6 separate regions of the Homo sapiens genome follow, and regions 1, 2, 3, 4 and 6 are each linked to region 5. The links come from fine-mapping of genetic effects on gene expression. A gene starts in region 5. Each other region holds a variant in brackets. All regions are shown on one strand. Distances are between the middles of the regions.

Region 1 (5,074 bases), 220 kb after region 5:
CAATGACCCTGTGAGGTAGAGACTTATTAGTGAGGTGTTGTTAGACCCACAACCTGAACTGTCAGCCCAGAGAAAAGAAGACTGAGCTAAGCCAGAGCTGGTAGAACCAAGACCACAGTGCTCTGAAGCTTTAACACGGTCTGGCTGACCCCAGGACTGACCTTCCCCCTGCCTCATCTCCATTCAGCTGCCTTGATATCTTGAGCTGAGAAGGAGGTGTGTGTTCAGGATCTCAGTGGCATCCTGCGCTGTGTAACAAGTGGATGTGTGAGTGTGAACACACTGCATAGGAAAAGGGAGAGAAGCCAGGAGCTCACGCTGGATCTGAACCTGTCAGGACAACTGATTGAAAAAAATCAGTCAGTGATTTAGGTATGGGACTCTGAACCACTGGTTTTGTTTCCACCATTTGTTTTCCTCCAAATGGAATGATTTCATCTTGCTAATATTAATAGGTAACCAACTATAAGGTTGTCCAGGCAGTGTGCTAAGTTTTCAAGTTGCGTTCTCATCAAATCCTTGCAGCAATTCTACCAGGCAATGTCTTCATTGTACAAAGAAGAAAACAGAGGCTTAAAGAGTTAAGTACTTGTACAAATCGCAGCTGGATATTTGAATTCTGACACATCTCTCCAGAGGCCACACTCTCAGACTACACTAACTGTCCCCCACCTAGATTCTTTTCCTGCACTTCTCTGTGGGCTGAGGAATGATGGTCATGGAACCAGTGCCAGCTGAGAGGGCATCTCATGTGTGTAAGCTGTTGCCCCAGTCGTGGGCTTTCAGAGAAAGGACTGGATACCCAGTGTCATGTCCACTCAACAGCCATGCAAGGCTGGGTTCTTGAAGCCACAGCTCTTCACTGACTCCTTGAGCATCCATGTGACTCTAGAGTTTAGCTATGCAAGTGCAAGCTTTGCTCTCAAATACATGTGCAATGTAATTAGAGGATAGCTGATGCCTGATTCACTGGCCTTACAAATCTGTAGCTGCCTGGATTTCAACTGTCAATACATGCTGAAGTCCTTTTCGGATCAAATTTAAGTTCAGATAAAGAGTGTGTGGTGGGGACACAATAAATATTTGGAAGGAAGAAAAGATGGAAGGAAAGAAGTAAGGAAGGAGGAAAGGTAGGGCAGAAGGACCCTCCAAACAGCTGGGTACTCTGTAGCCTCAGAAGGTTGGCAAGATAAATCACAGCTCAGCATAAAGCCTATGTCGGTGTCTGGTGTTTAAAAAGTGGGGAGGAGAGGCTCAGCCCACAGCCTCTGTGGACAGGTTTTCTTTCATCTGCTTTCTAGCCAAAGGATGTGAAGACAAGCTACAGGAACTGATGGGCTGCAGCTGAGATAGGTCAGATTTTCACTCTAGCCCCCTGAACTGGCCACAGGGCCCCTTCGTTCCCTGACTTCCATCATTGCTCTTTCCTGTGATGTCTGACCTCCCCTGTGTCACTGCATCTGACTCTTGCTGCCTCCTCAGCACCTGCGGCCCCATCTCCTCCAAGTTCTGAACTGCACAGGCATCTTCTGAGGTACAGCCATGTTTGGGTGCCCAGCCGGCTCTTCCTGCAGGTCTTCCTGCTCTCCTGATGTCCCTCAGCTCACAACCTCTCTTTTCTAGCAGAGCATAGAAAGACAGGAGCTGACTTCTGGATGCCTGGTCATCATTTCCTTCTTTAGTTCCATTTTACAAGCCCAGGTGCTGTATGAAAAACAGGGCATGCTAACCCTGTCTTCCATCCACTAGGGCGGAGCTGACGGTTAAAACAAGGCTCTTTCCCATGCCAGCAATTAGACCTCCATTTCTCAGAAGAGGAAAGAGGGGAAGCGTGAACAGACAGAAGGGCTCATTTTCTGTTTGTCAAAGGAATAAATGGATTAAGGATCCTTGCATTTCAAGATGCATTTCAAGATTTCAGAGATGGAGTCTTGATAAGACAGTGAGAACTGACTGAGAGGGAGCTGCACCCAATCACGGGGCCACGCACCCAGGGACAGTTGCACCTATATGGATTGTTTCCCAGCCAAATGATGTTCTGACCATTAACTCAGGCATCTGGGATTCCCCAAAGAAACAGATGAGTAGCATCACTTGGGGGACTTTATTTTTAAAAATAAAAATTCAGTTCCTTAAATAGGCATTTGGTGACCTCATGTTTTTTTAGTGAAACATGTTGGTAAGAGATGCAATATTTTGAACAGGAAAGACAGTATGATAAAAGCATTCTTGGGCCAGGTGTGGTAGCTCACACCTGTAATCCCAACAGTTTGGGAGGCCAAGGCGGACAGACCACTTGAGGTCAGCAGTTCAAGACCAGCCTGGCCAAAATGGCACAACACCATCTCTACTTAAAAAAAAAATTAGCTAGGCCTGGTGGTGCACGCCTGTAATACCAGCTACTTGGGTGGCTGAGGCACGAGAATCACTTGAACTTGGGAGGTGGAGGTTGCAGTGAGCTGAGATCATGCCCATGTACTCCTGCCTGGGCAACAGAGAGAGACTCTGTCTCAAAAAAAAAAAAAGCATTCTTCCTTTTTTTTTTAACTCTAACAACCCACTGGCCCACATGCCTCAAATCCTACATAGTTAAACATCACAAGTACCTATTCTGCATACAATTTTTACTTACATATGCATCATAAACATTTTGCT[G/A]TGTTTCTACAAGACTTTGTGATGCTTATTTCAAGGACTATTGGTAGTTTTCCACAAGTTGATGCAGCATCAGGCATTAAAATGCTCCCCAGATGCTGAGCATTTAGCAATAACACCATTCTCCACCAAAGAGGCTTGTGTTCCCAAAATTACAGCTCTTGGTTCTTTTTGAGAGCAGTTTTCTGGGGGCATAAACTGCCCCCTGGTATGGCTACTGCACAGACCATATTCCCCTTTAATCACGTGCCTTGGTGCAGGGTACGCATCTACTAACCACTTTCCCCTTGTGGAAATGTTCTCCCAGGGGAGTCATTCTCCTGCCCAGCCTCAGAGAGAGCCTTGATCTCAGCCGCTCTGACAGCTTCAGTCACTTTACATTTCAGGAAACTGAATATAGGTTCTAATCTCTTTGCTCTCTAAAAGCTTCTGGGGTCCTAATGCAAATTTTATCACCCCTAGTTTAACACACTGTAAGCCCACATCAATAATTTTCAAACACAAGCACACAAATAATTTTTATCTTACCAAACACCCTCCCAAGCTTCTTGGCAATTGCCAGGTCAGAAGCTAAGGACACGTTTACAGATTTTTGCTAAATATTCCTATTACTCCTTTCCAAATTACTTTCCAAACAGTGTATCCATTTAGTTACTAGCTATAAACAAAGGTACAGTCAGTCCTCACTTAAGGTTGTCAATATGTTCTTGCAATCTGAAAGTAAGTAACACCAATTTTACCACAAGCAAATTAATATTCCTATGGTTTATTTCTAGTCACAAACACATCAAAATTCTAAATAAAAACCAAAGGCCGGGCGCGGTGGCTCATGACTGTTATCCCAGCACTTTGGGAGGCCGAGGCGAGTGGATCATAAGGTCAGGAGTTCAAGACCAGCCTGACCAACATGGTGAAACCCCGTCTCTACTAAAAATACAAAAATTAGCCGGGCATGGTGGCGCATGCCTGTAGTCCCAGCTACTCAGGAGGCTGAAGCAGGAGAAACACTAGAACCTGGGAGGCAGAGGTTGCAGTGAGCCAAGATTGCACCACTGCACTCCAGCCTGGGCAACAGAGTGAGACTCCGTCTCAAAAAAAAAAAACACTTCTGATATTAACCACTGAAATAAATATGAGCTATACATACATTTAAGAAAGATAAATAAAAGCAAGTAAGATAACTTACTCAATAATAACAGTTCTCTAGGTTGCCGGAGTCTCCAGTCTCCGGTTGCTGTAGCTCATTCCAGCAGCTCAGGGCTTAAAGTAAGAACCAGCCCTGAACAGGACACTGTCACATCGCAGGGCACACTCACACACACCCCACACTCACACCAGGACCATGTAGACATGCCGGTGAACTGAACATGCACCTCTTTGAGGGGTGGGAGAAAACCAGAGCATCCAGAGCAAAACCCCTGTGGACGTGGGGAGAGCATGCAAACCACACAGACAGTGGCCCTGGCAGAGAATCAATTTTTTTCTCATCATTAAAAAAAAAAAAAAAAAGTTGAATGAAATGACATTATCTGAGGAACTGTTCTCGTTGTTGTGCTACAGAAACAATTGTTTTTGTTTTTAGTAACTATCATATGGCACCTCAAGCTGTGAGTTTCTTTGACTGCTAGCTAGGGTCAACTTTTTCTCCTGTTTTTGTCATCTTTCTTTTTTCTCTTTCTTTCTTTCTTTCTTTCTTTCTTTCTTTCTTTCTTTCTTTCTTTCTTTCTTTCTTTCCTTCCTTCCTTTCTTCCTTCCTTCCTTCCTTTCTTTCTTTTTCTTCTTTCTTCTTGCTTTTTTTTTTCCTTTTTGTTGAGATGGGGTCTTATCTGTCACCCAACCTGGGGTATAGTGGCATGATCACGGCTCACTGCAGCCTCGACCTCCCAGGCTCAATCGATCCTCCTGAGAGCTGGGACTACAGGGATGTGTCACCACTTTCTTTTTGAGTGAATTGAATTGTTCATTCATATCTGATTTACTGAGGGTTCTGAATCACAAGCCACAAAAACCAACTCTGGCTAATTTAGCAGAAAAGGAACTTATTAAGGCTCCCAGAATCTCCAGGAGGACAAGGGCACCAGGCTTAGGGCTTATACAGCCAGGAAAAATGTCCAAAGTCCAGCCTAGGGCAGGCTCCTGGAACTCGTCACTGGACTCTGACACTGCCAGGTGCCCACCATGACACCATACTGTGCGCAAACCCTGCTGTGGGAATTGCTGTCTTTGACAGCAACACGCTGCTGCAGTGACAGCTGTCCCTGCCACTGCCCTCACAGAACAGATTCTGCCAGGCTCCCCTCTGCACATGACCAGCCTCTAATTCAAAATCATGCAGGTGTACAATTGACAGATACTGGCCATGGATCTGTGCCCTTGCTGCAAGTGCAGCTGGGAAAAGACCTCATATTCTGCAGAAGGAAGG
Region 2 (5,074 bases), 100 kb after region 5:
TGTTATTCCAGGAAACCACCGCCTTCATATCCCCTGATGGCAGCGTAAGTCAGCCGAGATTCTTCACTGAGCCCGAACTTACACCTCCCCTGGCTGTGGCGCTGCACAGCGCCCTGAGAGTGACTTTGTCTGACTTCTTCCCGGTGGCTCGCCGGGCCGCCGCCGCGTGGTTGGCGCCAGCGCACTGGGGCAGTCGCGCGCGCCCAGGTGCGGGCCGCGTTACCTCAGCAGACGCTAGAGAGTGAATGAGCCGCGCGGGCCCGGGACCCTTGGGGCTCTTCACTCTCCAGGCCGTCCCGTGGGCGCGCTAGCCTTTTCAAGTGATAGTAATCGGAGACTTTTCCGTTACATGAGGCTCAACAAAAGATTGTAATTCCAGCAGCTCTGTTTGGGAAGGCACTACCGCGGCGAGTCCAGGGCCCGGCCGGGGGTCGGCGGCTGCCGGGCGGCTGGGGCGACCGCGGACCGTGCGGGACCGGTAGGGGGTCGCGGGCCGGCTAGGCTCCCCCGCGCCCCTCCTCGTGGTATAGCCTGCATTTCTAATACAATGCTGTTATGCTAATCAGGTGACATCACCGCCCAGCACACGGCGAGTGGCTCCTGATAAAATTACAAACCGGCGGCCGCCGCGGGCAGCTGGGAGGAGGTGTGCGCGCTGCGCCCGCGAGCTCCCGGGCTCGGCAACCGTGGCATGCTTAGGATTGGCCATATTTAAAAGTTCTGAAGTAGAACCTGCGCCTCCTCTCTGCTTCTCCCTCCTCCTCAGTAATTTATTTCGAGCTTCCAGGCAAGGGCCACGGAAGAAGGGAAAGCAAGAAATTAGATGCCTGTGTGGTAACTCCTCGCGGAGCTAAGGTGGACTCTCTTGCAGCCAACTTCCCATCAGATCACCCTGCTGGACTTGCAGACCGGAATGGGGCTCGCCTAAGGAGCCGAGCGCTGCGGAGGCTGCTGCGTGTTGGATGGGAGTGGGAGGGGGCTGGAGCGAGATTTCCAGGGCGCAGTCCTCCGGGGCGTTACGCCGGGCATAATGGAATTGCAGAGGACGTCTAGTATCTCCGGGCCGCTGTCGCCGGCGTACACGGGGCAGGTGCCTTACAACTACAACCAGCTGGAAGGCAGATTCAAGCAGCTGCAAGGTAAGCCCCCTCCCAAAGGCCGGGCCTGTCCTGGGTGCCAACGGGGGTTCTTGGAGGCTTTATTTGTGACCCTAATGAAGACGGGCGGCTTCACAGCTCGGCCCCAGACCCTGTGGTTGGCTGCGGGCACCCCATTCACGACTTAGGGAAGGCAGTTGCTCATACTCCACTCCAGAAGAGCTACCATTTGGAGTCCCTGTCTCTCCAGCACCTTTTTGGCTTTCTAGGTTGTCAGATAACTGCTGCACACACATTTTCTTTACTTTTAGCTAACTTTACCTCCTAGTAGATCAGTGCTCATAGACTTATTAGTATGCAGGTATTTGATTCCGGGTCGCCTCTGGCTCCCAGCCCCCAGCCTCTTACCTCTGGGAAGCTTTAAAGGTGTAAAGTGCCGTGCTCAGACCCAGTCCTGTAGAACAATAGCAAAGGGGAGGAGGGAGGGGTCTTTTTGTTCCTAAGCCTTTGGTAAATTACAGTTTTTTATTCAGAAGCTTAATTTTAATTTTTCTGATGTGTTGGGAAGAGCCTTCCCATCTATTTAGTGGGCTATATAATTTCTAATGAAAGCCGGTTATTGTCATTTCAACCCTATGGGTTGGATTAGTTGGATCAATTACAGGTTTCTTGGAGTCTTTTTAAGGCTCAGACAATTGAATGAGTCCAATATTTTACTGAACATATTTTTAGGGAGAGCAGAAGCCTGTGTGTGCACCAGTGTGCTGTTTTCCCTGCGGCCCCTGCACCCCTCAGCTGTCCCTGCCCAGCCAGCAGGCCCTGGCCAGCAGTGTCTCAGAGCTTATACATGAAAAAAGGTTCCTAACTGAAAACAGAACTCCTTCCGTTTGGAAGCCCCTGGAGTCAGTAGTAGGCTGGGAATGGCTCTAGCACTGTAAAAAAGTAGTATTCGAGGACTGTGTGTTTCTTATTTTAACCTCCTCAGTGCTGCAAATGTGGTTCCTGTGAGGAGGAGGAAGGAAGGAAGCCGCTCAGCCCTAGAATGTTTTTCATTGGGAAGAGGGGGGAGGATGTCTTTCATTCATTGGTTTATTTGTCTTGTGAAATAGTTGACAGTAATGACACTTCTCTGGAAAACGAGGCAGAACAGGACGTGATTTTAAACATTTGCTGGGCTGTGCCACATTCCTCTGGCAGTTAGCTCAGAGGAAGCTCCCTTCGCTCTGGGGAACGGTTCTGTGTCTCTTTGGTTCATTTCTCTTGAGCTCTTCGGCAGTCAAATTTGCTTTTTTGAAAACTTAAGCTGGGGGCGCTTGCAAGTAGTAAATAGAGGAGTTGGGGTGGGGGGGGGCGTTCATTATCTAGGTTTGTTAGGGGCCTCACGGTTTTCGGGTCGGAGAATCCACTGCGTGCTCCTCCTCTTCCCCTGGCCCGGACTCCCAGCTTCATTGTGTCATCCCGCCTGGGGGAAAGCACCCACCGGGATCGTCAGCCCACTCCACCGCCAGCCTAGCCTGGAAGTCTCAGAAAAAAAGCAAAACTGGGAGAAAATAGAAGGTGTGAGGGAGGAGTGCACCCCTAGGCCCACCCATAACAAAAGGCTGTTATT[C/G]CGAAAGGGCTGAGGAAGGTTTTAAAACTGCTCGCCGAGAAGGGTGGAGCCTACACACAGGAAATGTCTTAACTGTCCTCTCTGGACAACGTAAAGTTTAAATTTAAAAAAAATCATGTGCCCCTGATATTTTACCTCATACGCTGTTTCTCAAGGAAATCCCTTCGAAAGGGGTAAGCTTCGTGTTTTGTGTGGTAGCTTTAAAAATAATTTTTTTTAGTGTGACCCTTGTCTCCTAATTTAGCCCCAGTGACTTTCTTATTTTTAAATATTGTGGTTTAGGAGTTGCACAAGTTTAGTGTTGGTATTTCTGTAGCAGAAAACCACCCATGTTGAGGAATTGAGAAAGGGTGAATTAACTTTCAAGTATGGTGGACCTCAGGAGAATTACACACATTTGTCAGCATCCTTCAGAACAAATGAACCGATTGCATTTTAAACAATCCTAGGAGAATTTTGATTAAACACACACACACAAAACCTTTCTTTAATTCCCATCCCTGGTTTTGTGTTTTGTTTGGTATTTGTAGTTCTGATTATCACATATTTTTGATAACATATAATTTCTATCTGCTGATTTAATTTTGTACATTCCTGCAAGGGTGCCTTTTTTTACTCTTCTGAGTATAATCTTTCCTAGCACATAATCTCTGAATATTGGCAAAATGCTCCTCTGAAACTGTATTGGGTTTTTTGTTTTCGTTTTAAGAGACAGAGTCTCACGCTGTTGCCCAGGCTCTAGTGCAGTGGCACAATCACGACTCAACAGCAGCCTTGAAGTCCTGGCTCAAGCCATCCTCCCACCTCAGCCTCCCAAGTAGCTGGGACTATACCATGTCTGGCTAATTTTTAAATTTTTTGTAGAGACAGAGTCTCACCATGTTGCTCAGGCTGGTGTTGAACTCCTGGCCTCAAATGATCCTCCCGCCTTCACTTCCCAAAGTGTTGGGATCACAGATGTGAGCTACCTTGCCAGTCCTGTACTGGGTTTAATGCCTCTGATATGAACTTATTTATGTATTGTCTGTGCCTGATAGTGCTATGATTTTTCTGGAGTTGTTTCTGCATTTTGGCTGGTTTCAAGTTACTTTCCACACTGGGTCCTAAAAATTTCAGGAGGTGTGCCATAGAATGAGATTTGGAGTTCTGGCTAAGGAGAATATAATTTTAAAATGAGTCTGGTCTATTTAGATAAAATGGTTTATAGCGATTTATAGTTTATAAATTTATAGAGATATTATAAATTTATAGTTTAAATATAGTTATATATAAATATAAATCGAGTTATATATTTATATATAAATATAGTTATATATAGTTTAAAATAAAAATAAGGATAGTCATAAATATATAGTTTATAGAGATTTATGGTTTGTAGAGATTTATAGTTTGTAGAGATTTGTGGGTCAGTAAATAAGTGTGATTAAAAAAAAAACCTCATTGAGATACAAGAGTGATGGCTTTATCACACGAAGCCTCCTGGCATAAGAAGACAAGCCCTTCAACCTCTGATGGCTGTAGCATTCACCACCAACACCCAACACCCAACACACACACACCCACCCCTTCCTCTTTTTCTTTTTCAGATTTTCACCTGCAAAATTAAGTTATCACTTTCCTCAGAATCAGTTCATGTATCGTATAAAGTTGTATTTGATGTTTTTTTCTCTGTTAAATAAAAGAGGAATGTTGAAATACAGCAAAACCCAACCTCCCATATTTAGAGAACTGTGTAGTAACAGAGGTGCAGGTTCATGATAACCATCTCTCCACTTCACATCAGCCAGCTTAACTCCTCATGAGAGAACACTCATCATGCCACTTTCCCCCTCAGAAACAGTTGCTTGTGCCATTGTGTAAATGAAGTTCCAGAGTCTAGCTTGGCCTTCAAAGATTCTCCGTAAAATGGCCCCACTCCACTTACTTCTTATTCTAATATATTCCATTCAAATCTGGTAGGCAGGCCTACAGCTTTTTATAAAACCCATCCCTGGGTTTCACGCTTATCTTCTACATTTTGCCTCAAATGCCTACTCTTCCATTTCATCTATAGAAATGCTTACTTTTCTTTTCTTTTTCTTTTTTTTTTTTGAGGCAAGGTCTGCTTCTGTTGCTCAGGCTGGAGTGCAGTGGTGTGATGATCTTGGCTCACTGCAACCTCTGCCTCCCAGGCTCAAGTGATTCTCCCACCTCAGTCTCCCCAGTAGCTGGGACTACAGGCACTTGCCACCAAACCCTGCTTTGTGTGTGTGTGTGTGTGTGTGTGTGTGTGTGTGTGTGTTTTGTAGAGACAGGGTTTCACCATGTTGCCCAAACTGGTCTTGAACTCATGAGCTCAAGTGATTGGTCTGCCTCGGCCTCCCAAAAT
Region 3 (5,074 bases), 150 kb after region 5:
GATCCAGGAGACAAAAGGAAAAACTTAAAGAGCACACATGAGAGCCATATGCAGTTCTGTGACTGCTGGCGGGGAGAGCTGCTCCACCCACCTCTTCTAGGGCGGCACCGATTACACAGGCATCCCTTTCTCGGATAGGAGCGTAATGGTGTCTGGGCCAGCTTTAGGAGGCTGACGGGTGTACCGTGGAGAGAGAGCACCAGTGTTACCTCAAACAGCACTTGCAGAATCAGAGTTACAGAATTTTAGATTAAGCCCACCCGTATTTTATATCTATTTTTTCCTACCTCGTTAGATTGCTTGATTTTGATGCAACCTGGCATTGCACAAATAGCAAATTCTAGCATTTCCCACATAACCGAATTAAAATCATTTTGAAGTTTCTAAAGGCAAAATCCACCTCTTTCTTTTTTTGGGGTAAGGAGGATATCACATTAATGTGAAAAGCTTAATGTTTAAAGACATTTCTTTTTCCATTGCTATTATGGTCTGGTTCTGCATCTGCAGATTTAACTGACTGCAGGTAGAAAATATTCAAGGGGAAGAACAATGAAAAATAACAATACAGAAATAAACAGTGATACAATTTTTTAAAAATACAGTATAACAACTATTTACATACCATTTATATTGTATTAGTTACAAATAATATAGCCATGATTTAAAATATATGGGAGGCCGGGGGGCTGGCTCACGCCTGTAATCCCAGCACTTTGGGAGGCCAAGGTGGATGGATCATTTGAGATCAGGAGTTCAAGACCAGCTTGGCCAACATGGTGAAACGCCATCTCTACTAAAAATACAAAAATTAGCCAGGCGTGGTGACTGGTGCCTATAACCCCGCTACTTGGGAGGCTGAGGCAGGAGAATCTCTTGAACCCAGGAGGCAGAGATTGCGGTGAGATCGTGCCATTGCACTCCAGCCTGGGCGACAGAGCGAGACTCTGTCTCAAAAAAAAAATTAATAAATTAATTTTTAAAGTAGATGGGAGGATGTGCATAGGTTATATCAAATACTGTGCCGTTTTATATAAGCGACTTGAGCATTTATGGATTTTGGTATCATTGGGGGTCCTGGAATCAATCCCCTGTGGATACCAAGGGACAAATATATTTGAAAATAAAATTTTTCTACTTGTGGTAGGCCTCTGCACATAATCTTATTTCCTCAAGGTCAACCACATTCTTCTGTTTTTACTTGTCCTTTTTTATAGGAGAAAAGAAAGTGAAAAATAATAATCTGAGACTGGACAGACTTAAAATGGCCGCTTGTTACCCAAGTAACCTTCCTTTCAGACGTTTTCCGTACAGCACATAGCTGAGGATCTTAACTACCCAGGGGAAGAGCAGGGAATGGACAAGATACTAAGGTAGGGCTGGCTGCTGCCCTTAATTGCGTGTACCTGGGTTGCTGCAGCCTGGCCCCCTTTCCCCTGTGAGGTCCGCTCAGCACACACCAAGCCCAGTCTGTCTGCTGGCATTCAGTTCACTGTGCACATAACTCTGTGCTCAGAACTGGACCAAAAACCCCTGAGAATATAGAAGTATAAAGCCTCATCCTTGCTCTTAGGAAGCGAACAGTCTAGTTGGAAGTAATAAGAGCAATAAATGAAACAACAGCAAAATTATAATGATGAGTTCCTGGGCTCTGTGGTCCAGCCTGTTAGTTGTAGAGTTGTGAGGAAAAGAAGAGCTGTGAGAACCAGAATGATTGGAAATGGGAATGTCTCCGGGAAGGAAAGATGGGCCTTGGCCTGAGCCTTGGAAGGTAGGTAGGTGTGATGAGGTGAAGAGATTGGGAAGTCAAGATGATGGGTCACAGGCTGAGTGCGTTCTTCTACATGTGGATGTGTGCATCCTCCTGGCATCTTTATGAGATGGTGACATCAGCTCCAGGTGCAGCCTCTACTAGAGGGGGAGTGATGGGAAATAGGAAGGAGAGAAGGATGGAGCCAGATGGGCGAGGGCATGAGCTTGGTGTTGGTACAACAGATAATAGAAACCCATTTTGTGTGCGTGTGTGTGCATGCGCGCACGAGTGCGCGCATGCACACACACAGTGGATCCTTGAACAAAGCAGGGGGTTTAGGGGCACCAACCCCATGCCGCTGAAAATCTTCCTATGCATTTGATTCCCCCAAAACTTTTAATAGCCTACTGTTGTCTTATCAATAATATAAACAGTCAATTAACATATTTTGCATGTTATGTGTATTACATTACTGTAGTCTTAAAGTAAGCTAGGGAAAAGAAAATGTTAGAAAAGGAAGAGAAAATATATTTGCAGATTCATTAAGTGGAAGTGGATCATCATAAATGTCTTCATCCTTGTCTTCACGTTGAGTAGGCTGAGGAGGAAGGTGGGGGGATTGGTCTTGCCATCTTGGTGTAGTAGAAGTGGAGGAGGTAGAAGGGGAGGCAGAAGAGGCAGGGACACTTGGTGTAACTTTATGGAAATAACACAAGCAGTCTTGAATAATTGGAACCCTTGGAACAAATTCAATTTGTTTTCTGGTACTGCTTTTACATCCTCTTCC[G/T]CATCATTTGTCATCTTTTTGGAGACACTCATTTTCATCAAGTCGTCTTCCGTTAATTCTTCTGATGTGGTGTCTGATAGCTCTTGAATTTCTCCAAGATCCGTATCATGAAAACCTTCACCCCTCTACCTTTTTGCCATATCCACAACCTCTTTCATAATTTCCTTCATTGGCTCTGTCATAAATTCTGTGAAGTCCTGTGTAACATCTGGACATCATTTTCTTCAGCAGGAATGTATTGTTTCAGGCTCGATGGCTTTCACAGCTTTTTCTGTAACAATGATGGCATCTTCAGTGGTGTAGTCCTCCCAGATTTTCCTGATGTTCTCTCTGTTGGGGATTCTATTCCATAGCATCAACAAATCTTTCCATAGAGTTTTGTGTAGTAATGAGCGTTACAAGTCCTTATGACCCCTTGATCTAGAGGCTGAATTAGGGATGTTGTGTTTAGGGGCCAGTAGACCATGTCAGTGCCTTCAGTGTTGAACTCATGGGGTTCTGGGTGGGGGCATTATCCAATACCAAAAGAACTTTAAAACGCAGCCTCTTACTGGCAAGGTACTTTGAGACTTCAGGAACCAAAACATCAGTAGAACCAATTCAGAAAACCGGTTGTCATTGTCCAGGCCTTCTTTTTGTACAACCAGAAGACTGGCAGCTGGTATTTATTTTTTCCCTTCAAGGCTCAAAGGTTAGCAGCCTTATGAATAAGGGCAGTCCTGATTATAAACCCAGCTGCATTTGCACAGAACAGTAGAGTTAGCCTATCCCTTTATGCCTTAAGTCCTGGTGCTCACCTCTCTTTCTCTTACTGGGCTTTTGTGAACAGGGCACTTTCGTCTGCATTAAAAACTTGTTGAGGCAAGATACACTTTTCCTTCATTGATTTTCTTAATGGTGCCTGGGAACTCATCTGCTGCCTCTTGGTCAGCAAAAGCTGCTTCTCCCAATTCCTTGACATTTTTTAAGCCAAACCTCTTTCCGAAATTATCAGACTGGGAGCTCTGTGAACCTTTCCTGGTTCTGAGGGCTACCCAATTAAAAATTAATAGTCATGCCATCCTTTGCTGGTGTTACATTCTCCAGCCTTAGATCCTTCACCTTCCTATGCCTTTAAATTGTCATATGATGACTTCATTTTTTCTCAAATCATATTAGTCCTTAGGTATGCCTCTCTTATGGCAATCCTGCACTCACATAAAAGATGCATTTTTAATTAATTCATTATTTATTTATTTATTTTGTAGAGACGGGTTTTTGCCATGTTGTCCAGGCTGGTCTCAAACTCCTGGGCACAAGCAGTCTGCCCGCCTCAGCCTCCCAAAGTGCTGGGATTACAGGCATGAGCTGCTGCACCCAGCCAAACGCTGCATTTTCAATATGAGATAAAAAGATATTTCACAAAAAAGTGCAAGGTCTTTGCATCTGCTGGTGTAGCTTCAGGGATGGCTTCACAAATTTCCTTTTCTTTTTTTAGTCTTCAAATGGTGGGCCACCACAACTGTAGACCTCAATCTACAATACATAGCAAGCAGTTCATCCTTTTCTTGTAATGTCATGACTTCTCTCTGCTTCTTGGGAGTACTTCCAGCATCACTAGTGGCACTTTGGGTCTCATGATATTAGTCAAGGTTTACAGTATTGCACTAGACACTGTGAAAAATACACAAGAACTGTGAGAGATGGCTTTTTACTGTGATACCCAATTTACTAGAGAGACCACGTGGAGATGATTAGCATCATAGGCATTTTAAGTAGGCACTCAACAATACTTGAGCTCATCACAGTAGGAGTTAGAGATGGCTCTGAAATTACTATAGTAGTACAGTACATACCAAGATTTAATACTGCTCAAATGGTGCCATTACAATCTGTGTTTGTGTGTATGAGTTTTGATAATTTTTAATTTTATGACAGATTTGTATATATTTTGCGGTAGTAAATTATAAAATAGACTAACATCTATATATATTTTATGCATTCATGACATACCTTTTTCTTAATTTTTCTGGTATTTCTAGGCTAGGCCATTCATCTGAATCTTTTCAAATTGTCACCAATCTCTAAAAAGTTTTCCAGTTTATTTATTGAAAAATATCCATGTATAAGTGCATTTGAATAGTTCAGGCCCAACTAAAGGTCAACTGTGTATATTTACTATATTTTTATAGTAGATGTGTGTGTGCTTTTACAGGAGACGTATATATACTTCTATAATAGTATATTTTATAGTAGATGTATATATACACATATGCATTATCTACTCTCTCTCTATATATATATTTTTTGTTTGTTTGTTTTATTTAAAATGTTCACCTTCCAAGGGCCTCTTTTACGTTTTGATAAAACTGGGTAGAGGGAAGAAACATTTGGGGTATTTAAATTGCACTACACTCATTTTTTTCCCTTTTCCCCTTCTTTTCAGTAAGTTATACTTCTTTACTTAACCTTCACCCCATCCCTCCACACACAACCACCACTTGGAAATTCTTCTGATTTGATGGTTGTGTTCCCTGTTTTCATTTTGAGCCAAGCTT
Region 4 (5,074 bases), 190 kb after region 5:
CCTCAGCGCTGAGGCCATCAGACAGAGGCTTGCCGACCTGAAGCAGCTGTGGGGTCTCCTCATTGAGGAGACAGAGAAACGCCACAGGCGGCTGGAGGAGGCGCACAGGGCCCAGCAGTACTACTTTGACGCTGCTGAGGCCGAAGCCTGGATGAGCGAGCAGGAGCTGTACATGATGTCAGAGGAGAAGGCCAAGGTGAGAGGAGGCGGGAAGCATCCCTGTCCCAGGAGAGCCTCAGATTCAAACCCTGGGCACACTTTCTGCTGGCGGCTCTGTCTGTATAAAAACTTCCCTTGTAGCCTTTGAGTGTTAAGGGGACACCATGTGCATGAAGGTGTCTGAAATCCAGCTGCTGGTTTCCCTTTGGTGCAGCATTTTCTTATCTGAATCCTAGTGTGCCATTAAGAACAGGTTCATCCTTTCATCTTTGAAATATGCCAGAGTCCTTCCTGCTGTCTATTTATAGGTTCCCTAAACTTTACAAAATACAGGATGGCTTGGAGACAATTTGAAAGTATTGCAAGGTTCCAGGAATGCTGCCATTTACATACTTGAGGGACCTTGAGGAATTCCAGCGAACCAGGCACACTTGGTCTGCCCAAGCTTTTCTCTGAGAGGGGCCCTGCTCATTCTGCGTTCTCCTTGTGTTTATCTTCTGCACAGGCTTCTGTGGTCCAGTCCATATGGAAGCTCTTGGAACACTTCTGTGTTCCACTGTCCGTACTGCACCTCTGGAGTTTTTCTTTCTACTGATCCTTCCTCCTACCCTGCTGAGCAGCTGGTCTGTCACTCCTTAAGGGGTAGGGCCAGAGGGGACCGCTATGGTTGTGATGTTCTCCTGTCTTTGCAGGATGAGCAGAGTGCTGTCTCCATGTTGAAGAAGCACCAGATCTTAGAACAAGCTGTGGAGGACTATGCAGAGACCGTGCATCAGCTCTCCAAGACCAGCCGGGCCCTGGTGGCCGACAGCCATCCTGAAAGGTGAGCGCTGCTTCATGAGTGTGAGACCCGGCTCTCGATTCCTCTCAGTTAGGGTCTCTTGCTAACCCCCACCAAAAGAAAATGTCAGCATTCATCATGACTTGCTGGTAAGGCAAATCTTTGAGAAGCATTTTTAAAACAGACCCATCATTTAAAACATCCTATCATGATTAGGATGGGTGAACTGTTATATTAGGAAATTGCTCTTGTGGGTTAAATATCTCCCGTTGGCCAAGGCTCTCCTGAAAGAATATTGGTGTCGTGAGTCAAAAGTACAGGTTGACTAGGCTGGGCAGTCAACGTAAAGTGGCTTACACTTGTAATCCCAGCACTTTACCAAGCCAAGGTGGGAGGATTGCTTGAGCCCAGGGGGCCAAAGACCAATCTCGGCAATGTGGCGAAACCTCATCTCTACAAAAAATACAAAAAATCAGCTGGGTGTGGTGGCACACGTCTGTACTACTCAGCTATTCAAGAGGCTGAGGTTGGGAGGATGGTTTGAGTCCAGGAGTTTGAGTCTACAGTGAACCATGTTCACACTGCTGCACTCCAGCCTGGGTGACAGAGTGAGACCTTGTCTCAAAAAAATAAAAATGATCAGAAGTACAGGTTGACTTGCATGGTGGATACAGATAGTCATAGCACTTACACTTGGGTTGAAAAAGTCATCCAGTTTAGTAAAGTAATTACTAGTTTTAAGAGGAGCATTAGACAAGAATGCATAGACCTGTAAAATGAAGGGGCTCCCAGGAAGAACAAAGTGATAACACCTCCTAACTCTTCGATATCAAGTGATTAGAACACCTTCGAGGAAAAAGAAGAGGTGAGTGTGTGGTACTCATCAGGCCCCTGTATTAACTTCCAAAGCAGTCATTTTAGGATTTTTGTGTAAATGCCTTTTATGACTTGGAAAGGAATTGGCCTTGTGCATTTAACCAGGGCAGGTTAGGGGAGATGAGGTCAGTGGCTCTGTTGGTGTAGGAGGTTCTTAAGATGTTCATGATCAGGATTCCCAGGAAAGTGGCCTTCCTAGTCTCCAGGGATAGGCACCAACATGTCCTTTGTCTCTGATATTCTGGTTTGTAGACCATCACTCTGGGGAGAAGTTGGAGGGAGGGGGATTCAGTCTCCTGACTGCGCACCTGGGAATCATGAGATGGAGCAGCCGGTCCAGCCCTCCTAACAAGGATGGGCACTCTGCCCAGAGAAGGTAGAGGGCCTTGCGTGCCACACTGGCTGTGTCATTTGTCCCTCTGGCAGCATGGTACCAGAGAATGCAAGACCACTCTGGATTTTGCATTAACTTATTTTCTCTTTTGTCACCTTCCTGACTGGGAAGATTTTGCATTAACTTTTAACATCAAAGGAAATCCTGATTTGCAGAGCCAGAGGTGCAGAGAGAATTTTCCCCTTTCCCCGCTAAATTCTCCTGCCCCCACTATTCACTGCAGCAGAATGAGGCACTACCCATCCCTAGTGTAATAGTAGGGATAGGTGAATGTAGTTTACATATTGGCTCTTTTGTTTACATATTGGCTCTTCACGACTTCAAATTGTGGCCAATTTCAGAATTTTATTTTTCATGCTAAGTGGGTTAACCAGAGTTTCCTTTGAGAAATATGATGTAATATGCTCTCCCATTATCTCCACCTCATTTGTTTTTCCCCTGAAGAAACTTGACATTTAAGATCCTTTTTCTCCCCATTGCTCCTTTTCTTTTTCAGTGAGCGCATTAGCATGCGGCAGTCCAAAGTGGATAAACTGTACGCTGGTCTGAAAGACCTTGCTGAAGAGAGAAGAGGCAAGCTGGATGAGAGACACAGGTTATTCCAGCTCAACCGGGAGGTGGACGACCTGGAGCAGTGGATCGCTGAGAGGGAGGTGGTCGCAGGGTCCCATGAACTGGGACAGGACTATGAGCATGTCACGGCAAGTACTTGAGGCAGTGCATGAGTTG[G/A]TTGTGCAGTAAGCGATGGTGTGGAAGGCCATTTGCATTCCTTGTCTGTGAGCAGATAAAATGCCCTGGACTCCAATCAGAGGTCTTGGGGTTTAGTTTTAAGGTGGTGTTTCTTTTATAAGCTGGTGACTCGCATTTAGGTTGGCTAACCTCTCTGTGCACCCCTTCCTCCGGTAGTAAAAGGAGGTGGAGGTAGTGCCTCACTCTGCTGCAGTGAGCAAGAAAGGAAACCCAGTTGCTAAGAGGTTCTCGAGCTAAGATCTATTGTTCTGAAGTCATGAGTATTATTGGCTACATCTTGCTTAGAGGCAGTTTCTTTCCAAAGGGTATTCATGTGATCAAGAAATACAGAGTTCACAGTGGGCTCTCTGATTTCCTTACCCATCCCCGTTTCAGATGTTACAAGAACGATTCCGGGAGTTTGCCCGAGACACCGGGAACATTGGGCAGGAGCGCGTGGACACGGTCAATCACCTGGCAGATGAGCTCATCAACTCTGGACATTCAGATGCCGCCACCATCGCTGAATGGAAGGATGGCCTCAATGAAGCCTGGGCCGACCTCCTGGAGCTCATTGACACAAGAACACAGATTCTTGCCGCTTCCTATGAACTGCACAAGTTTTACCACGATGCCAAGGAGATCTTTGGGCGTATACAGGACAAACACAAGAAACTCCCTGAGGAGCTTGGGAGAGATCAGAACACAGTGGAGACCTTACAGAGAATGCACACTACATTTGAGCATGACATCCAGGCTCTGGGCACACAGGTGGGTATGGCAGCCACCCAGGGGTGCTGGGGAGGCTTTTTCTCCATAGAACATCTTTGGGCATCTGTAAGTATCTCCCTGTTCCTTGGCTCTTCAAAAGAATTGCCCCAATTAAGCACATACATGTACCCACTTTGTAATAGTGCTCCATTTGGGAGAACTTATCAGTCCATAAAGGTCTACGTTTGCCACATTTGTGAACATTAGATGAGTGCCCCCATGATTAAAATAAATAAACCAGATGCATACACAGATGTTTGCAAGTTATAGGCCTCAGCAAGTGTTTTTATTATGTTAGCATATCCATCCAGAACAATTTCCAAAATAATATTTTACTATTTTTCATCAACCAGGTTCTAAGTTGTATGTCTGGAAAAAGAAAAAAACAGGATTCTGACATTTTATCATGCCTCGTCCCCAGTATGAAATGACTGGCACTAAGACTTTGTTTAAAAGATGTTTGACAAAGTAGTAACAATATAACAGAATCTAGTGTAATCACTCTCTAGTTTCCTTTCTGATCTCTGCACAGTTTCTTGTTTAGTCTTATGCCTTTTAGTTGAAAAACAAATTGTATTTTTTTTCTTCTAAGTTTCATGGCCCTAGAGAAGAAGCCAATTTTATTAAAGATGTTATCCCTGATTATGTCAAGGGTTCTTGTTGTTAAGAGTATATTGAGTATCTAAGTTATCTCAGCTTTTTCTGTTAAAGGCCAAATAGTGTTTTTCGCTTTATGAGATACATACTCTGTTGCAGCTCTGCCCTCTGTCATTGTAGAATAAAGCAGCCATAGACAGTGAGAAGATGAATGAGCGTAGCTGTGTTCCAATAAATCTTTATTTACAGAAACAGGCCACCCAGATATGGCCTTGGGCTGACCCAGTCTAGTGCCTCAGCCTCTAAATAGCTTTGGTATACTTTGGGATTTGTTCTATGAAGGGACCACCTTGATAGTTGTTCTCTCTCACTTCCCCTTAATTCTTAATTCCTGTCACTATGATGGCAAGTTTAATTTACCTCTCTAAGCTTTGGTTCCCTAATAGTTTAAGGATTGAGGTGCAAAACATATGACATAGTGAGATCTCTAGAAATGTTTTCTAATTATTATTATATAACAAAAGTTTAGGGAAACATGGGATATCTAGAGATAGAATTAGAAAACACCTTGACAACATAGGTCTTTCCTCTGCACCTCTAAAATCATTTACTTTTAGAACTGCAAGACACTTGAGAGACAGTGGAGTTGCTCTCTCATTTTTTCATTAAATCCCTTCACCTCATTAGACTTAGAGATGAGGAAGCCAAAGAAGGGTCTCGGAACATCCAGGGTGGGAATCTCGTCCCTCGAGTCTGATAGTCTGCAC
Region 5 (5,074 bases):
TTAGAGTATCATTCTCTTTTCTAAACAAAACAGGTTGTAGTAGACAATACTGTTTATCAATACCTTTTTATTTTATTTTATTTTATTTTATTTTTTGAGACAGAGTCTCGCTCTGTCACCCAGGCTGGAATGCAGTGGTGCGATCTCGGCTCACTGCAACCTCCGCCTTCCAGGTTCAAGTGATTCTCCTGCCCCAGCCTCCAGAGTACCTGGGACTATAGGCGTGTCTCACCATGCCCGGCTAATTTTTGTATTTTTAGTAGAGACGGGGTTTCGCCATGTTGGCCAGGCTGGTCTTGAACTCCTGACCTCAGGTGATCCACCCACTTCAGCCTCTCAAAGTGCTGGGATTACAGGCATGAGCCACCGTGCCCAGCCTTCCCCTACATTCTGAATGGAAAGTTAAAATGACAATTTATATCTGTAAAAATTTTGTAATAAAGTATTTTGATGGGAGATAAAGCCATATGCAATCACATGGTTTTAAAAGTGGAGAGTAGTATGTTACAAACATGATATTGAAGACTTCTAGGTTCCTTTATATCAACCCTGATTCTAATATGAGAAGAAACTAAGCCGCTTCTGAGATACATGGGAATAATCCTTCTGAGCTGTTATCACTGCCTAAGACTTTTTATCTTTTTTAGATTTTGCCTTCCATAAAAATGTCTTCTCCAATAATCTTTCCAGTTGTACTATCTTTTCTTTGAATTGTTACTTCTTTTTGGTCGTTGGTACACTGAGTTCTCTAGGGTGATTTTTTGCACCTAAGGGTAAGAATTCAAAATTGTGATGCAGGTATTTACAGTAGAACTCTGAATCCTTGTCTTTCACATTTTTGGAATAATTACTGGGGCTTTACTAGAGTACCTTGCTAAGGTGTGTGTGGCCTTTTTTTTTTTTTTAATTAAAAAACAACGTAAGTGGGAGTGGAATGGGGTAAGGGAGGTGAATCATTCATCAAATGAAAATTTATTTAAATACCGTTGTCTGTGATAAAGGAATAACCATTTCAGAATAACACTGGAAGAATTAATTTAAATGGATGCACTTCCCAATATTGTTACTGTTTTCTTTGGTATTTCATTAACATTGTGAGTGGGGAGGTGCTGGGGTCCATGGTAAAAAAATAAGTAAGTGAAAGGCAAACAACTTTGCTTTCTAGTGGATTTCCCTTATTACCTAATGAGGGCAGCAGCTTACAAGTTGATTGTGTTCAATTCAACAAATTTGTTTTAGTACCTAAGTGCCTGCTATATGTACAGAGTGAAGAAAGAAATAACCCTACCTTTAAGAGAGTTTACGGTCTGGTTGTGTTGATTCACCTTCTGAGAAAAAATGTTATTTGCTTTCCTCAATTTTTTTCCTATCAAAAGTAAACATAGGTTCAAACATTCAAACCTATGAAGGCCTAAAAGGAAGAATCATCTTCAGTTTGCTGTGACGATTTCACTGAGTTTTATTTTAAAATATTCATTTAAAAATACATACAAACATATAAACCCATCAGGCCAGGTTCTAGTGATCTGAGATATAAGCATGATACAAACTACTTGGCTGCCGTGTATTTTTGTTTTATTTTAATCCAGGTGATCAGGTCTGTATGGGGAAAAAGCCCTGGGGCTTTTTCAAACAGGAAGGGCCCTCCTCCCTCTGAATGCCCGCAGTGCCGCCCTGTGCACTTTACAGAACAAGGAGAAAGTCAGTTTCTTCAAACTGCTTTTCTAAAGAGCGTTTCCATTCGTGGTCCTGGTGATTCCACCATCTTTTCTTCACAACAGTGACGGTTCTGGAATTTCTACACAGCCTGAGGGGCTGACGGGGTAGACCAGGTGACTGGGAAGGGGCAGTGGCACATGACAAAAATTTGAGGAAACGTCCAGTTTCCGTTTCAGGGAATGCGCATAGGGGAAAACGCAAGTCCCCACGCCATCACGGGGCCCTCCACCGCGGCCGGACGACCCCTCTCTCGGGAGTGACTGGGGCAGGGCACCTGGCCTCAGGTTCGAGCGGAGCCTGCACTGAGAGGCAGGAGTTGGATGAACCACTTGTAGGGTCTGCTCCCAGCTACCCAAAGCGAAAGGGTGGGCGAAAAAGCATTTGCAAAAGAATACATTAACCTCACAAGGAACGACCCCCACCACCCATCCTCCAGCGCCCAAGGTTTCCCACGAAGAGGTCGCCGTCGCCCTTCTCCAAGTTGGGTAGAACCTATAAGGCATCACCAACTGCATCTCAAACCAACCAAGCAAGTGACGCTCCAAAACCTCCCTAAATACCCTCTCTCCCCAGCATTCCGAACGCAACATCAAGGGCGAAAAGAGGCTGCACAAATCACGTAGAAAATTAGACCGCCTCTTTCCATGGCGATAATCGAATTAGCCTCAAATTAAACGTGAAATTGGCCCTCTCCGGCTGTGGAGACAAAGCCCCTATTGTCCTGCTCGGGTAGCGGCAGCAGCAGTGCCCACCCCGCCCCGGCCAGCCTGGTCGGTCCCCGCCGCTGGGAGGATGAGGTCCGGGCTGGACCCGGGAAGAGCCTCAGCTGGAGAGGACGTGGACGCGCCCGAGGCTCGGCTCCCTGGGCGGCTGCGGGGCTCCGGGCAGGAGGAGAGGGCGGGCGAAGCAGAGGGAGCGGGCGGGAGTGGGGAGGGAGGAGTGCGGAGGGCGGAGGGCGTGCGGGAGGGATCCCGGGAGTGCGCTTGTGTGTGTGTGCGCGCGCGCCCGCCCCGCGCGCTCCTCTCCCCGCCCCTCGCCCCCTCCCTGCGAGCGCCCTCCTCTCCTCCTCCCCCCGCCCCCCGCGCTCCCGCCCAGCCCCCGGAATCAGTGCCGCTGTTGCCGTGCAGGCTGCGGATTCCTCCAGTCCCTCCCTCGGCCGCCTCTCCTCCCGGAGCGAGCGCGCAGCCCTGCGCAGCAGCGCCCACTGGTCCCGTCCTGTGAGCCCCGGCCCCAGCCGCGGACAGACCCGCGGAGTCGCCTCCCGGCCCACCCGCCCGGCCGCCGAGGAGCGGGAGGAGGACGGGACCCCGGCGCCCCCACCCCATCCCCGGGAGGTAGGTAGGGGGCCCGAGGCAGGGAGATGCCAACTCACTGGGGCTGCCTCCCGGGTGGGCTCCGCGGCGGCGGACGGGCGGGAGGAGGGGCGCGGGCCCAGGGCCGGAGGACGCCGCTGCCCGCCTGCCCTGCGCCCGGGGAGCCGCGTGGGGGCAGGGAGGCTGCAAAGCCCGGGCGGGGGCGGCGCGGGGAGCCCGGGTCGCGGGTGCTCATTGGTACTCGGATGATGCGGGACGAGGGGCGGCAGGCTCTGCGGTGAGGCGGCAGCAGACCCGCCGTGCGCACCGCTGCCGTCCGGCCCCAGCCCCGGCGCGGCGCGGCGATTCCTCCTCCCTGCCTCCGCCGGCGCCTCCCTGCAGCCGGGCGCGGCGGCCCCTGACGCGGAGGCCCCTGGCGCGGAGGTGGGTGCGGAGCGGACAGCGGACAGCCGGAGGGTCTATTTTCAGGTGCCCTCTCTGTGGCCCCGCGGGTGGGGAGCGGGGGCGGCGGTGACAGGGCCGGGCTCTGCGCGTAGCGGTGCAGGGGATGCGGCCAGGCGTGGTCCCGGCTGCGCCGCGCTGCAGCTGAGCCGGAGGCGGCGGCCCCGCGCCCCCACCTCCGCCCCATCCCTGCGCTTGCTACCCTCGTGCGCCCGCCCCCCCCCCGCCCTTTCTGCCGTCCCCACTCTCCCAGGGCTGGGCGTGAGCCGCCTCCGGGCGCCGAGCCGCCGCTGCGCCCGCCCTTCAGCTCCTGCCACCCTCTCTTCAACAGGTTTGTCTCAGCGCAGGGACCCTCCGGGCCTGCTTTGGGTAGGTGGGCTGGCTCGTCATCACCCCCCACACCACGCCCACGGCCCTCTTTTAGGGGGCGCCTTCTCTTTGTTTTTGTGATAGGAAAGGTGCCAACTGCTGCCATCAGATGAGGAGGGGGTGGGGATCAGAACGCAAACCTCTGTCCATTATTTTTCCAATCGAAAGCCAGGCCAGATAGTAAGTGAGGACAGGGTGCGTGTGGGGGTGCTTCGGCGGAGCAGAAAATTGAATTCGGTGGGGTTTATTTGGGCGGGGATGTGCTTTTTTGGCAAGATGGATGGCTCACGGTGCCCTCGCCGTGATGCAGCACAATGCAGCAGTATCGCAGCTTCCTTGGTTCTCGCTGGCGGGGCTTGGCACGGCCGCTCGGCGCCTGCGGCCCCCGCCCGGCCCCACCCAGGCCCGGGGCTGCCCTTGGCCGAGGCCTGGAGCTGCTGCTACCTTGTCCTGCAGCTTCTGCTGGATGTGGCGTCAGGAGGACCAGGTCAGCTAGGTGTGAGCAGGGGAGAGTCTTTTCTTTTGGGATGATCCCTCCTGCACCTCTTCTTGGGCTGCGCTCTGCCGGAGGGGCGCCCTGCATCACCAGTGCAGGCAGAGGGGAGCCGGCCTGTGGTTGCGGATCGGAATCTGATCTGCGACCAGGGGACCTGAGCCATAGGGAGGGGCTGCAGGAAGGACTGGGCCCAGTGGTGTGCGGAGGCAATGTTGCAGTGTGGGGAGTCGCAGCGTTTTTCTGTGGATCGTCCATAATCTGTAACCACAACCCAGCTATGCATTAATTTTTTCTACGTGAAAAGTTGGTGTTTATTAATTGGACCTTCACAACTGTGACATTACAGTACCTCGTCTGTCTTTGGTTAATACCAAGTATGCATTTTTTCTGTAGGAAACCATTTTTAAATGAAATGATTAATGCATTTTGGGTTTTATGTCACTAAGACATTTATAAGTATATTAAAATTCAGTAGGTTGTTTTAAAAGGAATTTATATGTTTTTTAATGGATAGTAAATGATTCCTTTAGCTTGTATTTTGTTTTCATCGTTTGCTTTTTCTAAGTCAAGTACAGTTGCATTATTTGGATGCTTTATTAAGGATTATTAGGTGTATGAGTGTCATGATGGGGGCTAAATTGGTATTCAGATTTCTATTGATTGAGGTAGCCAAGTTAAGTGTCCGGGCGTAATTAATGGGATTATGACAGTAACACTGCGTTTGTGTTTGTTTATA
Region 6 (5,074 bases), 210 kb after region 5:
TTTACATTTTGTAGGACAATGCACCGGCAGCCTGGCTCCTTGGCTGCTTTCCCCTTTGTACTCCCTTCATGCAGCTTCAGAGAGCTGGGATATTAGCGAACGGCCCCTACCCTGTGTTACACAACAGTACCCTCGTCCTCTCCGCAGCCACAGAGTGAACCTGTGACCCTTCCAAGCCTGGGGACCTCCCAGTGTCACACTAATAGGGCTTCTTAATTCTGAGACATACAGTAGAAGAAAAGTTGAAGGACATTTTCTGTTTGCCTATTCTGAAACTCTGGAACATGTGAATGTAGGGGATACAAGCTCAGTAGCAGAATTTCAAAAGGGCTCATTGTGTTCAAAAGCTTTCTCCTGAACTCAGTTTAGACCAGTAAGTGATCAGGCATCCACAAGTGATTTTTGCCACAATAAACCCAAATGTTATGTTTGGGGCTTTTTAAAATCCTTCCATTGGATTGAAGCACAGGCTCCCTGTGTGTATCATTGGCGCGATTATATGGCTTCTTGATCTCCAGGGGTCTGTTGCTGGGCCTGGGCGGGTCCCCAGGCTTGGTGGTGACATATGTAGGTTGACGCTTCTGTTGTGACTCCTGTGGTCTACTTCTGTCCTGCATGGGATATGGGAGTTGGGGGATTTTTATTTCTCTGTAATTAAGTGGTGACTAACTTTCTTCCTTGAAATTACAGACTAAATGATGGCAATGAGTACCTCTTCCAAGCCAAAGACGATGTAAGTTTCTAAATGTTATTTCTCTCCACTACTTAGGAGTTTGCAAGTGTTTGTGTGATGATGGGCTTTATTCAGAAAGTTCTTCATGTAAATGATGATCAGTGATGGTTTCTATCACTGGGCTCCAGTCACCAGCACTAGAAGGTGTTTGGTTCTGTCTCTAGAAGGCAGTGAATATGATCTCACTGTCCCTTTGCCGAGGCAGGATCCCTTAAAGTCGATGGAATCTTTGCCTGTCCCCTCCCAGGGATGAGGCATAGTGAGGTGGTCCCAGGACTGGTTGTGGATCATGATGGGACCCCCGCTGCACCCTTCGCCAGCAGCCAGCTGTTTAATGGGTGTGTACCTCACCTCAAGGAAAGAGAGAGTCCATTGATGGAAAAACAACACCTGTAATGCTTTAAATGTGAAAAAGCACCTTCTAGGGTGGGATCTGACCACCTCACAGATTGAGACTGGTCTTCCAGCTGTTACAAGTTTGTAGGGCCACATACTAGGGTGATGAGTAGAACTGAATTCTCATGAGAAGCTGAACCAGGTTCCCTCTCCTGTACTGATAAGGCAGAGGTGCATTTGGGGACAGTGCCCAGAAGTGACTCTGCTTACCCCTCAGTTGGCCAGATGCGCCATTCCCAAGCCTTGGAGCCAGAACCCCTCATGCCTACTCTTAGTTGAGTCTCACCTGTGTCCCTTCCTCTGTCCAGGAGGAAATGAACACATGGATCCAGGCTATCTCTTCCGCCATCTCCTCTGATAAACACGAGGTGTCTGCCAGCACCCAGAGCACGCCAGCATCCAGCCGCGCGCAGACCCTCCCCACCAGCGTCGTCACCATCACCAGCGAGTCCAGTCCCGGCAAGCGGGAAAAGGACAAAGAGAAAGACAAAGAGAAGCGGTTCAGCCTTTTTGGCAAAAAGAAATGAACTCCTTTCCTTCACCTCCTGCCCTTCTCTTACCTTTTCAGTGAAATTCCAGCATGCAAGCTCAGAACCAACACATTACTCTCTGTGCCTAATGTTCCTCAATGTGGTTGATTTTTTTTTTTTTTTAATTTATAGAGCATTTCGGGGGGGGTGGGGGAAACACACCTAAACACTTTATCTCCAAGTTACAAAAGTTTGAGGTGCAGAGGGAAGGCCAGATTTTTTTTTTAATGAAATTATATAGATTAGATCTCAGTATTTAAACTGTTCCTCAATTTTGTGAGGCTGTGTTGGAAATAACCCGCCTCTAGTGCTGTTGGTATGCAAGGCAGCGGTGCTTAATCAATATTTCCTGTGCTCACCAGAGGCAAAATGTACCAATATCCTGACACCATTCTCTCTCCATTTACTTCTGGTGGTTACCCTGACTCTTGACTCTTAGAAGTGCCCGAGATGGGGCTAACCTTTATTAAACAGATCGCATATTATGATCTTGCTGCAGCCACAGTGCAGCTCCACATTAACTCTACAGACCAAACCATTTGTATCTGGCATCACTTACTAACACACGACATGCGGCTTTTCTGCATCAACTGCTATGACGGTTAAGAATGTCAGTATACAAGAAGGAATAGAAAACTGATACTGTTTTAAATAATCTGTAATTTCA[A/AT]TTTTTTTTTTTTGCTGAAATACATTATATTGTACGTTTGAGATAATTCTAGTACAAAGTATAATAAAACTAGATGTATAATAAACCCTTTAAATCATTGGTAAGTGTACAAGTGGTGGAACTGAAGCATTTACTGGACAAAGTAATGTTACTCTAATGGTTACTTGCTCGTGCGTTGCCACACTGTGTTATAATTTGCTTCATTTCCTTGCTATTTGATACATAGTGTGCATTTCTCTGTCACTGTAACTATTGTAATGACAAATTTTCATCTTACTGCACAATCAAAATGACATTGATAGGAATGAACTCCAGAGGCTGGGCCTGAACAGGGAGGTGGTCGCTCAGGCCTGGTGCTCAGTCGTACGACCTGTACCTCTCAACTTTTGCCCTATCTGTTAAATATATGCTATGTCATTAAATGCTTTTAAATCTAGCACGGTGACTAGTTGTTGTTCTTCCTCTGCTGCGTGTGCATGCCCAGTAGGGAAACTGCAAAGGGAGAAATGACAAACAAGAAACATTTTACAACCAGTCTGGGCTCACTTTTGCATTTTTTATGCATGTCTGGTGCACAAGCTTTGAAAACTACAGCAAACAGTAATAAATGTGACTGTTTTGTAGTTATACATTCAGGCTTTATCTTTTATTTATGAAAAAGTTACCAGAGCACTTGTGAAACCTGAACTCTGAGATAGGGGTTGGCAAATTTGTTCTGTAAAGGGACAGAGATAGTAAATATTTTAGGCTTTGTAGGCCGTAACTGTCTCTGTTGCTCAATTCTGCTGTTGCGTAATACAAAGGCAGCCATTGACGGTATGTGAATGCCTGGGCATGGCTGTGTTCCAGTAAAACTATTTAAGGACATAAATTTGAATTTCATATAACTTTGACATGCCATACAATATTTTGATTTTCTTAATGATTTCAAAATGTAAAGTCTATTTTATACAGATCAGACCAAAAAGAAGAAAAAAAAAAAACAGGCAAGAGGTTAGGTTTGGCCCATGGGCCATAGTTTGCTGACTTCAGCATAGAGTCGTGGGTTATTTACAAGTGACATACTTTTCCTGGGTTATCTGGGTATGTTGACTCCATGCCACTTGCATAAAGCAGCAATGGATATTAGTATTATGGATGTCCAGTAAGTTATTCCACAAAGACCATGCCTAAGGTGGCATCAGCCCTGGGCTCCACAGCTGCGTGGCATCAAAGCTTTCTCTTAACTCTCTTACCTCTAGGCAAACTGAGACCTCACCATCCTCTCCCCTGCTTCCCACGACAGTCCTTTGCCCTTGCCATGCTCAGGGTTGGAATCAAGTTGTTCTATTCTCAACAGACCAAAATGTTTAGTTAAGGCAAAGTATCTTGGAAACAATTGTGATTAATTACAGTCTTGTACTCTTGACAAAGCTGTGCAGATGGCAATAAGTTCATACCAGCAATCCTGGAGTCCCATAATAAATACGTACATGTGGAACATCGTGCACATAATTTCAACAGTTCGCAGATCTGTAGTTATGAAGCCAGGGTTTGGTGGTATTTGCTCTCTCTTGGTGCATTTGATAAGGATCCACTGAGGCCTGAATGTGGAAGATGATGGGCAGCGAGAGGAGCGTCAGAAGACCCCAGTCAAGACGTGTTCGCCATCAGAGGTTACAGGCCGCACAGCCTGATGAGCTTCAAGCCTGGCAGGGTAAATAGTTTTTGGGTTTTTTGTTTTTTTTTTATTCTTCCACTATCATGTTTTTTGAGGATTTTGCATATTTCTTGTTGCCATAATGCTGTGCTATTTTACCCTGATTTTCAGTGATACAATATGGGTGACAATACTGGCCCCTCCATAAATCTGAAGAGTAAGAAGTAGTGAAAATAAGGCTTAGGATATGAAATGGCGTTGTCACTTGAATCAAGGCCACTTTTTGTCCTACTTGAGCATCTCAAGTTGGGATGCATCTTCTGATGGCACTTCCGGAACTGGCTGTGGTTTTTTTGGGTGTACCGAGAGTGCCAGTGACTGTGCTTCTTACAATTCCTGGCATCTTGAGTAGGTGAAACACTGTATCAGACTGGGTGATGGGCACATTGTCATTTCACCAAGTTCCTGGAACTGTTAGAATTGCTTGTGTATGGGGATCCTATGTTAGTTCCCCTGGATACATTGTTTTATCAGTCGGAATTCTTAAATAAAGACATACTTCCCTTCATGTAGTGGTGCAGTCCATGTAGAAAAGGCAGGATCAATGCTGGAGTCTTTCCCATTATTTGCATTACTTTCCTATAATCAGCGTTATTTATGAGTTGGTTCCTATCCTCTAAAGATGAACAATTTTTTAAATATTATGAATTTATGGGCTTAAATATATTTGAGTTTTCTGGTGAAATCCTCGTTTTTTGGTGAATATGTTTTATAATTTTGAATTGACCTTTCTAAACATGGTCCATAACACAAAAACATATTTTAACAAAGAAGAAAAAAGACTTCTTTCCATCAAAGCTCAATAGAGATTTCTGTCTATTGAAGATCATGGTGAAATATTTCATTTTCCACTAGAATAGTTTAAAATTATTCATTTGCTTTATTCCATGTTATAAAAACTCAGAATAGCAATACTAATACTACCACCACCAATAACTGAGAACAGTTTTTTTTTTTTTTTAACTCTTTATTTTGCAATACTTGTATACTGACATGCAGTTGTAAGAAATAATACAGTGCTGTTTACGCAGTTTCCCCCAGTGGTAGCT

The links.
Region 1: its variant is fine-mapped to the expression of SPTBN1 in whole blood (TOPMed, PIP above 0.99).
Region 2: its variant is fine-mapped to the expression of SPTBN1 in whole blood (TOPMed, PIP above 0.99). The same link has a PIP of 0.9 or more in blood mononuclear cells, monocytes, neutrophils and non-classical monocytes.
Region 3: its variant is fine-mapped to the expression of SPTBN1 in whole blood (INTERVAL, PIP above 0.99).
Region 4: its variant is fine-mapped to the expression of SPTBN1 in whole blood (TOPMed, PIP above 0.99).
Region 6: its variant is fine-mapped to the expression of SPTBN1 in whole blood (INTERVAL, PIP above 0.99).

Annotation. Positions count from the first base shown.
Region 1 is chr2:54,675,986-54,681,059 of GRCh38, forward strand. It overlaps SPTBN1-AS2 (SPTBN1 antisense RNA 2), which reads right to left and starts at 4,060. Exons shown (of 3, transcript NR_186176.1): 1 at 3,839-4,060. The region is part of intron 1 of LOC105374653 (a long non-coding RNA gene); the gene reads left to right. The variant G/A (reference allele first, on the strand shown) is at 2,656.
Region 2 is chr2:54,557,749-54,562,822 of GRCh38, forward strand. All of the region lies in intron 2 of SPTBN1 (spectrin beta, non-erythrocytic 1), which reads left to right. It overlaps SPTBN1-AS1 (SPTBN1 antisense RNA 1), which reads right to left and starts at 957. Exons shown (of 4, transcript NR_185881.1): 1 at 1-957. RefSeq lists a silencer at 355-494 and an enhancer at 2,496-2,665. The variant C/G (reference allele first, on the strand shown) is at 2,707.
Region 3 is chr2:54,606,666-54,611,739 of GRCh38, forward strand. All of the region lies in intron 3 of SPTBN1 (spectrin beta, non-erythrocytic 1), which reads left to right. Among named protein-coding and RNA genes, the nearest start is that of SPTBN1-AS1, 50 kb to the left of the region's middle. The variant G/T (reference allele first, on the strand shown) is at 2,538.
Region 4 is chr2:54,646,280-54,651,353 of GRCh38, forward strand. SPTBN1 (spectrin beta, non-erythrocytic 1) reads left to right here. Exons shown (of 36, transcript NM_003128.3): 23 at 1-196; 24 at 852-982; 25 at 2,707-2,911; 26 at 3,336-3,710. Among named protein-coding and RNA genes, the nearest start is that of SPTBN1-AS2, 31 kb to the right of the region's middle. The variant G/A (reference allele first, on the strand shown) is at 2,940.
Region 5 is chr2:54,453,466-54,458,539 of GRCh38, forward strand. It overlaps SPTBN1 (spectrin beta, non-erythrocytic 1), which reads left to right and starts at 2,862. Exons shown (of 36, transcript NM_003128.3): 1 at 2,862-3,053.
Region 6 is chr2:54,666,914-54,671,987 of GRCh38, forward strand. SPTBN1 (spectrin beta, non-erythrocytic 1) reads left to right here. Exons shown (of 36, transcript NM_003128.3): 35 at 691-733; 36 at 1,438-4,533. The coding sequence ends at 1,656. The region is part of intron 1 of SPTBN1-AS2 (SPTBN1 antisense RNA 2); the gene reads right to left. Among named protein-coding and RNA genes, the nearest start is that of SPTBN1-AS2, 11 kb to the right of the region's middle. The variant A/AT (reference allele first, on the strand shown) is at 2,327.